Homo sapiens: one gene and its partners. The protein of the gene in region 3 purifies or fractionates together with the protein of the main gene of each other region. This does not show direct contact. Each region holds a gene or a part of one and is shown on either strand. Other genes may lie near its edges.

What was found.
Region 1: the proteins of ATXN7L3B (region 3) and OAS3 fractionate together in Homo sapiens (co-fractionation; one large-scale study listed by BioGRID). This does not show direct contact.
Region 2: the proteins of ATXN7L3B (region 3) and ESRP2 fractionate together in Homo sapiens (co-fractionation; one large-scale study listed by BioGRID). This does not show direct contact.

Annotation. Positions count from the first base shown.
Region 1 is NC_000012.12:112,951,853-112,955,506, reverse strand, and holds part of OAS3 (2'-5'-oligoadenylate synthase 3), read right to left. Parts: intron 1-3,654.
Region 2 is NC_000016.10:68,233,215-68,237,356, forward strand, and holds the start of ESRP2 (epithelial splicing regulatory protein 2), read right to left. Parts: upstream 2,914-4,142; 5' UTR 2,832-2,913; coding exon 2,634-2,831; intron 2,549-2,633; coding exon 2,420-2,548; intron 2,409-2,419; exon of another isoform or gene 1,967-2,408; intron 894-1,966; coding exon 780-893; intron 669-779; coding exon 554-668; intron 286-553; exon of another isoform or gene 212-285; coding exon 113-211; intron 1-112. UniProt on the Homo sapiens protein: mRNA splicing factor that regulates the formation of epithelial cell-specific isoforms. Specifically regulates the expression of FGFR2-IIIb, an epithelial cell-specific isoform of FGFR2.
Region 3 is NC_000012.12:74,543,077-74,545,992, reverse strand, and holds the end of ATXN7L3B (ataxin-7-like protein 3B), read right to left. Parts: 3' UTR 563-2,916; downstream 1-562.

The DNA of each region.
Region 1 (3,654 bases), about 38 Mb from region 3:
ACTAGGTATTGATGGGAGGCATCTCAAAATAATGAGTTATTTATGACAAACCCACAGCCAATATCGTACTGAATGGGCAAAAACTGGAAGCATTCCCTTTGGAAACTGGCACAAGACAGGGATGCCCTCTCTCACCACTCCTATTCAACATAGTGTTGGAAGTTCTGGCCAGGGCAATAAGGCAGGAGAAAGAAATAAAGGGTATTCAATTAGGAAACGAGGAAGTCAAATTGTCCCTGTTTGCAAATGACATGATTGTATATTTAGAAAACCCCATCGTCTCAGCCCAAAATGTTCTTAAGCTGATAAGCAACTTCAGCAAAGTCTCAGGATACAAAATCACTGTGCAAAAATCACAAGCATTCCTACACACCAATAACAAACAAACAGAGAGCCAAATCATGAGTGAACTCCCATTCACAATTGCTTCAAAGAGAATGAAATACCCAGGAATCCAACTTACAATGGATGTGAAGGACTTCTTCAAGGAGAACTACAAACCACTGCTCAGTGAAATAAAACAGGACACAAACAAATGGAAGAACATTCCATGCTCATGGATAGGAAGAATCAATATTGTGAAAATGGCCATATTGCCCAAGGTAATTTATAGATTCAATGCCATCCCCAACAAGCTACCAATGACTTTCTTCACAGAATTGGAAAAAACTACTTTAAAGTTCATATGAAACCAAAAAAGAGCCTGCATTGCCAAGACAATCCTAAGCCAAAAGAACAAAGCTGGAGGCATCACGCTACCTGACTTCAAACTATACTACAGTAACCAAAACAGCATGGTACTGTACCAAAACAGAGATATAGACCAATGGAATAGAACAGAGCCCTCAGAAATAACACCACATGTCTACAACCATCTGATCTTTGACAAACCTGACAAAAACAAGAAATGGGGCCAGGCGCAGTGGCTCACGCCTGTAATCCCAGCACTTTGGGAGGCCGAGGTGGGTGGATCACGAGGTCGGGAGATCAAGACCATCCTGGCTAACATGGTGAAACCCTGTCTGTCTCTACTAAAAAATACAAAAAAATTAGCCAGATGTGGTGGCGGGCACCTGTAGTCCCAGCTACTAGGGAAGCTGAGGCAGGAGAATGGTGTGAACCTGGGAGGTGGAGCTTGCAGTGAGCCGAGATCGCGTCACTGCACTCCAGCCTAGGCAACAGAGCGAGACTCCATCTCAAACAACAACAACAACAACAACAACAAACAAACAAACAGACAAACAAGAAATGGGGAAAGGATTCCCTATTTAATAAATAGTGCTGGGAAAACTGGCTAGCCATATCTAGAAAGCTGAAACTGTATCCTTTCCTTACACCTTATACAAAATTAATTCAAGATGGATTAAAGACTTACATCTTAGACCTAAAACCATAAAAACCCTAGAAGAAAACCTAGGCAATACCATTCAGGACATAGGCATGGGCAAGGACTTCATGACTAAAACACCAAAAGCAATGGCAACAGAAGCCAAAACTGACAAATGGGATCTAATTAAACTAAAGAGTTTCTGCACAGCAAAAGAAACTACCATCAGAGTGAACAAGCAACCTACAGAATGGGAGAAAATTTTTACAATCTACTCATCTGACAAAGGGCTAATATCCAGAATCTACAAAGAACTTAAACAAATTTATAAGAAAAAAATCAAACAACCCCATCAAAAAGTGGGTAAAGGATATGAACAGACACTTCTCAAAAGAAGACATTTATGCAGCCAACAGACACATGAAAAAATGCTCATCATCACTGGCCATCAGAGAAATGCAAATCAAAACCACAATGAGATACCATCTCACACCAGTTAGAATGGCGATCATTAAAAAGTCAGGAAACAACAGGTGCTGGAGAGGATGTGGAGAAATAGGAACACTTTTACACTGTTGGTGGGACTGTAAACTAGTTCAGCCATTGTGGAAGACAGTGTGGTGATTCCTCAAGGATCTAGAACTAGAAATACCATTTGACCCAGCCATCCCATTACCGGGTATATACCCAAAGGATTATAAATCATGCTGCTAGAAAGACACATGCACACATATGTTTATTGTGGCACTATTCACAAGAGCAAAGACTTGGAACCAACCCAAATGTCCATCAATGACAGACTGGATTAAGAAAATGTGGCACATATACACTATGGAATACTATGCAGCCATAAAAAAGGATGAGTTCATGTCCTTTGTAGGGACATGGATGAAGTTGGAAACCATCATTCTGAGCAAACGAACACAGGAGCAGAAAACCAAACACCACATGTTCTCACTCATAGGTGGGAACTGAACAATGAGAACACTTGGACACGGGGTGGGGAACATCACACACCAGGGCCTGTCGTGGGGTGGGGGGAGTGGGGAGGGATAGCATTAGAAGATATACCTAATGTAAATGACGAGTTAATGGGTGCAGCACACCAACATGGCACATGTATACATATGTAACAAACCTGCATGTTGTGCACATGTACCCTAGAACTTAAAGTATAATAAAAAAATCATAGAAAAAAAGAATTCTATACACAGATACATCAAAGAGAAACTGAAGGATACTATGAACCAAGAGAAAGTCTTAAAAGCCACTGAAAGGGAAATCAAAAGAAAATGAACAAACAAAATTCATGCATGCAAACAGAAAACAGATCATTAACAACAAAAAATCAATAACTGACAGAGACTTCTCATCAGCAACAACAGGTAAGAAGACAGCAGAACTAAGGAAAACAAGTGTCAAGCATCCCATTCAAGCATGGAGGTGAAACAGAAATGGTTTTAGACAAAGTCTGAGAAAAATTTGTCACTCATAAACCCTTTCTGAAAAAGTACTAAAAGATGTATTTCTGTAAGAAGGAAAATGAATCCAGAAGGAAGAACAGGAAATCAAGTAGCAATGGTGAAAAAATTTGTTAATTATATTAATAGGGTTTAATTTGCATAGATTGTAAAAACAAAAACAAAAGAAATAATCTCCCCTATTATTAGTGTCTGGAAGTTTAGTTCCAAGATATTATCAAACCCTTGAAGATCATTATATCATTGTTGCTTCTTTCATTTTTGTCTTTTAGCTTTGTGCTGCCTGTAATGGGTACAATTTAATAACACATGCTAGTAAATAAAGAGTAGAGAGGGTACGTCAGGAAAATGCTGACAAAGGAGGACTAAAGCCCTATTAATGTCAGACAAAAGGCTTTAAGACAAAGATAACTTTCAGAAATGAAGATTATTACTTAATAATAAAAGAACAATCCAATAAAATATAATATTATGCACTTATATGTTCCCAATAACATAGCCTCAAAATATTAAAAACAAAATTTACAGAATTGCAAGGAACAAGGGATAAATATCCATTCAGAGCAGGAGATTTTAAGATATTTTACTCAGAAATTGAGAGACCAAACAAAAAATTATCCGAGCAAGAAGTCATAAGCTAGATCTAAAGGACCTATATAGAAGTCTGCATTCAGCAATGGAAAGCATGAGATAGAGTCTCACTCTGTCTCTCAGGCTGGAGTGCAGTGGTGCAATCTCAGCTCACTGCAACCTCTGCCTCCCAGGTTCAAGAGATTTTCCTGCCTCAGTCTCCCGAGTAGCTGGGATTACAGGTGCGTGCCACCATGCCAGGCTATTTTTTTTTTT
Region 2 (4,142 bases), on a different chromosome or scaffold from region 3:
GAAATGACAAAGAGGATTCCCCCGTGGTCTCTTAGAGAAGGTCACAGTGGGGAGGAGCAATAGGCATTTGTCATCCCTGAGAACAGGTGACAGGCAGTGAGGGAAACCTTACTGCTGGGCTCTTTGAGTAGATGGAGGATAACAGCTACCATTGTCTTGACTTCCCAGACCCCAAAGTCATCCTCTGTGGCATCTGTCTCCAGTCCTAAACCTATGGGCAGAGAAGTGACAGTGAAGACATCTTAGCATAAGCACTAATCCTGTTTACTCCTGGGCCCAACTCCCCTCCATAGACACATGCTGGAGACCAGCATACACATTTGTTTTGGCCCAGTTCATGTGTGCACATACAGATTCCCAGTCCAGACATAGACAGACACATACCCACATTCCAAACTCATCCTAGCACAGACACGAAGACACAGTACACTCAGGGACTTAGCAGATAACGCAGTCTTGTATGTGTCCATATTACCCACCCACAGCATGCACATACTCAGACACATGTACCCACAGTGGCTTCTCCACCCTAACCCTGCTGGGTCACAGATACCCTGTGCCATGGTGGCCACAGTGAGGTCCCTGGCAGGGCAGGTGCTTGGATGCTGCATATGGAATTCTCTTCGGAGGTCATAGAAGGAGAAGAACATGTCGGGGAGCACCAGGTTCTGGGGGCACATAGGATTGAGGATGAGCGCCCTGCCCACCCTCAGGACAAGAGGGGTTCTGGGAACCTTACTGACCACCCCACCCCACCCGGTTTTCCTTCAGGAGCATACCTTCCTGGAGGCCTCGGGGTGCAGGACCTGTCGCAATAGCTGCTGCCCATCAGTGCAGAGCATGTAGGGGCCCCCGCCCAGCAAAGCCACATCCCCGTTCACCAGCTGTGAGAACTGGGGATAGGGAATGGGGAGAGAGAAACACACAGATTCACAGCTGGGCAGGCAGGAAGTGAGGGTAGGAGGAAGGAGGCAGGCTGCAAAGCTGGTTCAGCCAGATGTTCAGCCCTATCCTGCCTGGGAATAAGAGGCCACGCCTGTTGAGCCTAGCCCTATGTCCCTTCCCCTCACCCCCCAACCCTGTTCCAGTCCACTGTCACCTCCTCCAGGCCAAATGAGGGCAATCACATATAACCGAAGCCCTCAACACACACACTCCAGGAGTTTGGAGTGGGGCCAGAGCAAACACCTGGAGTGGGACAAGCAGGTGGGAAGGGGCGGGGCAAAGCAGGTTAAACCTGTCTTTGACCGGGTACCACCCTCAGACAGGTGGGGGAGGCCCAGGCCTGCCTGAGGCCCAGAAGGCTCATGGTCAATGGCAGCCCCGCCTCCAGGTCTGACCAACCGAGGGGCAGAGAAACTCCAAGGACAGAGCTCCACACTTGGACATCAGGGGCAGCATGAGCTTTGACCCACATCCTATTGACCGGCTGGCACTGAGCTGTTTGCTCATAGAGGGGGTGGCACTCCTGAGGCTGCCCAGCCCTCCCCCAGCCTCCATCCTTGCTGGAGAAGTATAAACACTAATCAGTGACCCACGAACCCTCCCTGCCAATTCTGTGACACTTTACAACTTGGGGCTGACAGAGCAAGGCAACCCAGCTCTCCTCCAGCAAACTCCCCAAGTGAAGGGCCGGGAGCCCTTCTGGAACAGACAAGGAATCATCATCGTGGTGCCTCCTCATCAGGAACCACAAGAGTTGTTGGAAGATGAAAGAACGTGAGTGTATAAAAAGGACTTACACTAATTACACTCAAGAGTCAGACATAGAATGAGCGCCGTAGTGAAGATAAGGAAAAGAAAACAGCAATGGAAACCACCTCCCACTTCAGCTAGGGCAGGAGGCACCCCAGGCCTTTGCACTCAGCAGGCAGATAGTCCCCCAGGCCAGGCCGGGACAGCGCCCACGCCTGGCCAGCCGGCCGGGACAGGCCTAGACGAGCAGTTTACACCTGGCGGCGTCTACCTCTAGGGCCGACACCGCCCTACGCCTCCGCTCCAGCAGCTCCCAAGCAGGCCGAAGACGCGGGCCGCAAGGACAGGTGACCTATATGGGCCCCTCGACCCCTTTCGCTTCCGGCTGCGGCTCAGGGAGACCTGACCCAGCAGGTCTCCCAAAGGCGTCTCGGCCTCGCTCCCCGGGCGGGAACTGGGGATGGATCCCAAAGCCTGCGTCCCGATCCCTTCGGTAGGAGTAGGTTCCTGCAATGGTTGAAAAGTAAGGAGCCCAGGGGAATGGCTGGCACGCGCGGATGAAAGGGGCACGCACACGCGAGAGTCGCTCAAAGTTTCAAACAAGAGCCCAGTCCTGCCGCCTGGACCGGTTGGTTGCGGCACGCCAGGCCTAGCCTCCGGCCGCCAATCCCGCCCAGAAATGTCCTCACGTCCAGGCCATGCCGCCACCCACCCCGGCGCTCACCTGCTGCAGCACCTTGTCCAGCGGCTCTGCCCGCGCCAGGCTGTCGGCGCTCAGGCCGCTCGCCTCGCGGCACTGCGTACTCAGTGCGGCCGCCTCGGCACGAACCAGCGATTTGTGCAGCGTCCCCACCTGTGAGCGGCGGGGGAAACCGATCAGCCGCGCCCCTCGACCCCGGAAGCTCCCTGGGGACCTCACCGCCTCTTTTCCACCCTACCTGGCGGCTCCGCGGCTCAACCACTTGCCAAACTAGGAGGATTAAGTCGGTCTCGTCCGAGCCCAGGTCCCGTCCCAGCGCACCCGCCGTAGCCCCGAAGAGGACGACCAGTGATCCGGGCCAGGGGCAGGGGTCCGCGGCGGGGTCGGCCGCGGGGTCAGGGCCCGGGGGAGGGGGCGGCGGCGGCGGCGGAGTCATGGCCGCAGAGGAAGGGGGCTCTCGGCCAGACACGCGGACCGACGAGGCGCACGCACGCACCGACCGACCGCAGACGCGGATCAGCTTGGGCGGGACACCGTGTATCGGGGGCGGCACCTGCGGCCCGGCTGGCTCAGTGGGCGCTGCCAAGACCCGCCCGTGGCGCCCCGCGGGGCGGGGCGGCTACCGGCCCACGCCCTCTCCAGGCGAGTTACCTGCCGGCCCCGCCGGCCACGTGACCGGGGCGGCTCCGGGAACCTTGGGGGAGGGCCGCCAGAACTCAACCCAGGACGCAAGAGCTCACGCTCCCGGCCTGGGCGCACGCTTAGGATCCGGATTCCTACTTCCAGGGCTGGTCCTGCCTGATTTTGGGGGCTAACCCATTCTTCCGCTCTCCCCCCACTCTTCCCCAGGGGTCGTCAGGCCTCTGCAAAGGAGCGTGCAAGACAGAGGCCTTCTCCAGTATGGAAGTCACCAGGAGGCAGTCTAGGGGCTGTGGGGGTCAACACGGCAGGTCTGGGGTTGATGGAAGTCAAAGGGTCAAGGGGGCGGTGAGAGTTGCCGGGTATCACCCTGTAGGGGGATCACCAGAAGTCACCTGGGAAAGGGGAGGGCGGCGGGAACATCAGCGTTGTTAGAGCTGTGGGGTGGTCACCAGGGATCACAGGGAAGGGCTTGTCCACGCAGATGCTAGGGCCGAGCGCTAGCCTGGCACTGAGAAGTGCCAGAGCGCGGTCGTTGTGGGTTGGGAGTGGGCAGGCCTCAATGCTGGGGAAAGGAACCCCCCAAATCGCAGAGAGCTGCACCCTAGACGAGGCTGAGAGGGGTAGAACGGGCCTGGAGCCTCACTCCTACCCCACGTGTGGGGGCCTGCCTGCTTTCGTCCCTTTCTGGACGGTGGAGAAGCTGCCTGGAGATTGCGAGCGCTCTGGCCGATGGGGGGCTAGCGTTGAGCGTGTGTGCGCGCATGCGGGCTGCAGATCCTCCCTTTTCCATCCCGCACCTACAACCCAATTGACAGCCCCGCATTTGGGGCTCCCATTCCTCCCTTTGCCCAGTGGAGCTTGGTGAGGCTCCTTTATGGCGCGTTTCCCGGCCGTTCCTTACTTTCCCAAACTCTCCCAGGGAGGTGACTGAGAAACTGAATAAGTGACTGAGAAACTGAATAATCCAGCAGGAAGGAGGGGGCTCCAGCGTGGCGGGAACTGAGTCACGCGGTTGCCTAGCCCGACTCGAGACTGAGACGGGAGCCGCACCACGCGCTTTCGGACAAGGAGGGTGCTGCGGCCCGGCCCCTGGACAATGGAGAGA
Region 3 (2,916 bases):
AGTTTCTCTGACTGGCAGGGTAGGGTAGCTATGTGAAACCAAGTGTATGGGTACACATTCCCAAAGTAAATGTTGATGATAATGGCATGACTGTTATTATTTTAGTCAATTCATTTCACCTCAGGCAATAGCAGAGTCTTTCTTTTTCATCTGTTCTCTCTAAAGTAATGAAGGTTTCTCTTATCTGTCCACCCATTAATCAATCATTTATCAATCTATCTAGTTTTACTCTGCCCATCCTTTCACCAAGGATATAAACTTTATTTCAGGCATCTTGCATTTACAGTTTCAATTTGTGATGATCAGGGTCTAATCTCCCAGTATCATATGGTATCTATATTTTCCTCAGTGCACTCTCCTTTTCTGTTTTCATTTGTATCTTTGGGGTGTGTGTGCGTTAGAAGAAAGACCTGGGTATTCTGGGTATTTCCTTCACTTCCTTGGGAACACAGTAATGCATTTAAGAGTATCTTTACCTCAATTTACTTAGCATACTGATGTCCTATATCAATTAGTCTGCTATCTACAGGAACATAACCATGAAAGTGGAAGTCTCATCCAATATTTTTGGTATAGTTTTTATTTCATATTCACAATTATTTAAACAACATACAGCATTGATTTGCCTATTGTTAAACATCAAAAGAAAGGCAACAAAGTATAAGAACATAGGTTTACTATTTTATTTGTACAGCTCTGGTTAATTTATTCTCACTTCAGTATAGTGACTATATGTATTCCAAATGGGTATATTACTTTCAATTTTTCCCTATTACATATAATGCTGCAACAGGTGGAAATATTGGGATATTGGTTACTTTTGTCTTCAACCACAACAGGTATTTCTAAATTGCTTTTAAAAACATTTTTTACCAATTTACAGCCTACTAGCAGTTTAAGTGTTTTAATTGCTCCATATGCCTTTCAGAGTTGATGTCATCACCATTTAAAAAAATTTAATCATACTGAGTAGGGTAAATTGGTATTTTGTTTTTAGTTTGCATTTCTTTGAACCTAAGGGAACTTTTACAACTTTTTGGCCATTCATATTTCTTTTTGTAAGAATGAGCTGTTCTTTTACTTTATACATTTGGCAATTGTACAACTATTTTGTTAGTAATCTTTAATCAGTTATAAGAACTAAACAACTAGCACATCAGGTTATTGGTTTGTTTGTTTCTAGTATGATTTAATGAACAGAAAGTTCTATTTTTATTATGGTCGAACACATCAATCTTTTCTCTATGTTTTGTACTTTTAAGAAATTTTCCCCTTATACACAATTATGAACACATCCTCCTATATTTTTCTAGAAAGATTTGACATTTTTTACTTTTACACATTAAATCTTTAATCCATATAGGAATTAATTTTGTGTCTGAGCACAGTTTTATTATTTATGGATAATCTGTTCCACAATACTGGTTTATATTCCACTGATTATAATACAAATTTAACCACACATCAAGACATAAACGTGTAATCTGTGTGTTTCGATCTAATTCTAAACTCTATTCTATTCCATTGTTTCTGCACCAAAACTAAAATATACATCTGTCAAAAAGATCTTGTCTATTCTAGCATCTGGTGTTCATATAAATCTTAAAATTAATTTGTCAAGTTCCATGAGCACATCTATTTGGATTGTAATACAGATTGCTTCCGATTCACATAATTTGGAGCAATGATATTGATTGCATTTTCTGTGCGTGAACATCTTCTCTCCATTTACTTGGGATTTTCCCAACATATTAGAAAATATTATTTTCTTTATAAAATCTTACACAGTTCTTGTGATATTATTTCATAGGACTGTTATAACTTGTTGAATTACATTCTAAATTTAATAACACTTTTTAAATGTTGGTATTCTGATTTTAGATATTGATCTTATATCCAGTAACTGTGCTAAATTTTCTCACTACTTTCAATGGTATGTTTGTAGATTCTATAAAATTATCCATGTAGATGTAGATGTCATCTGAGAACAACTGTTTCTAGATTCTATAAAATTGTTCATGTAAATATCATCTTAGAACAGTAAAAATTTTGTTTCTTCCATTCCTGCTTTTAAAGGGAGTGCTTCCAAGTATTCATTAATAAGTATAGTAACTGGTGTAGATTTTTGGTACATACCCTTTTGCAGTGTGTACAAGTTCTTGAGCTTTGGTTTCTATATTGTTAATGTCTTTGTTTTTTAGGCAATAATTCGTATTGAATTTTTTCAAACTATTTTTCAGTATCAGTTCAAATTTTCACATGGATTTTCTCTAATGGTAATGTGATGATTTTGAGATGAAATCTTGCCATCCTGTGATTAAACTGACTTGTTGATGTTTACTTTTGTTATTTTAAAGGAGTTGGTTTGCTAACATCTTCATTTAAAAAAAAAATCTATTTTGGTATTATTTTGCCTGTTTTTGTTGTTGTTGTTTCATTTACTGTATTCTCTATAAAATTCTAATTGTGTGGTGTTTTAAAAGTTATAGATGTATTCATTTACTTAAAAAATTAACAATTCCTTGAGTTACTTTTGAGTTCTATTTTAAAATAGACTTCCCTTTTTTTGTTTTCAAATTCATTGCCCTAACGTTGTTCATAAGCATCATGGATTTTTCATTGTTTTGTTTTTAATTAGTCGTTTGATTTATTACTCCATTGCTTCAACAAAGACCGCTGACCTAGGAGTCACAACAGCAGCATTCTACTTTTGCTTCCACCACTTGTAAATTTTTGCTTTTTGAACTATGGGCAAGTCACTGCTGCTGAAGATTTTTTTTTCATCTCTAAAATCAATTTAGTATTTCCTTTTTAGCTCACATATTTCCAATGAGTCTCAAGAAATATGATTGAAAATGTTTTCAAAAATGGGAAAACAAATACAAACAAAAACACCGCCAAGAGTTTAAGGTTTAT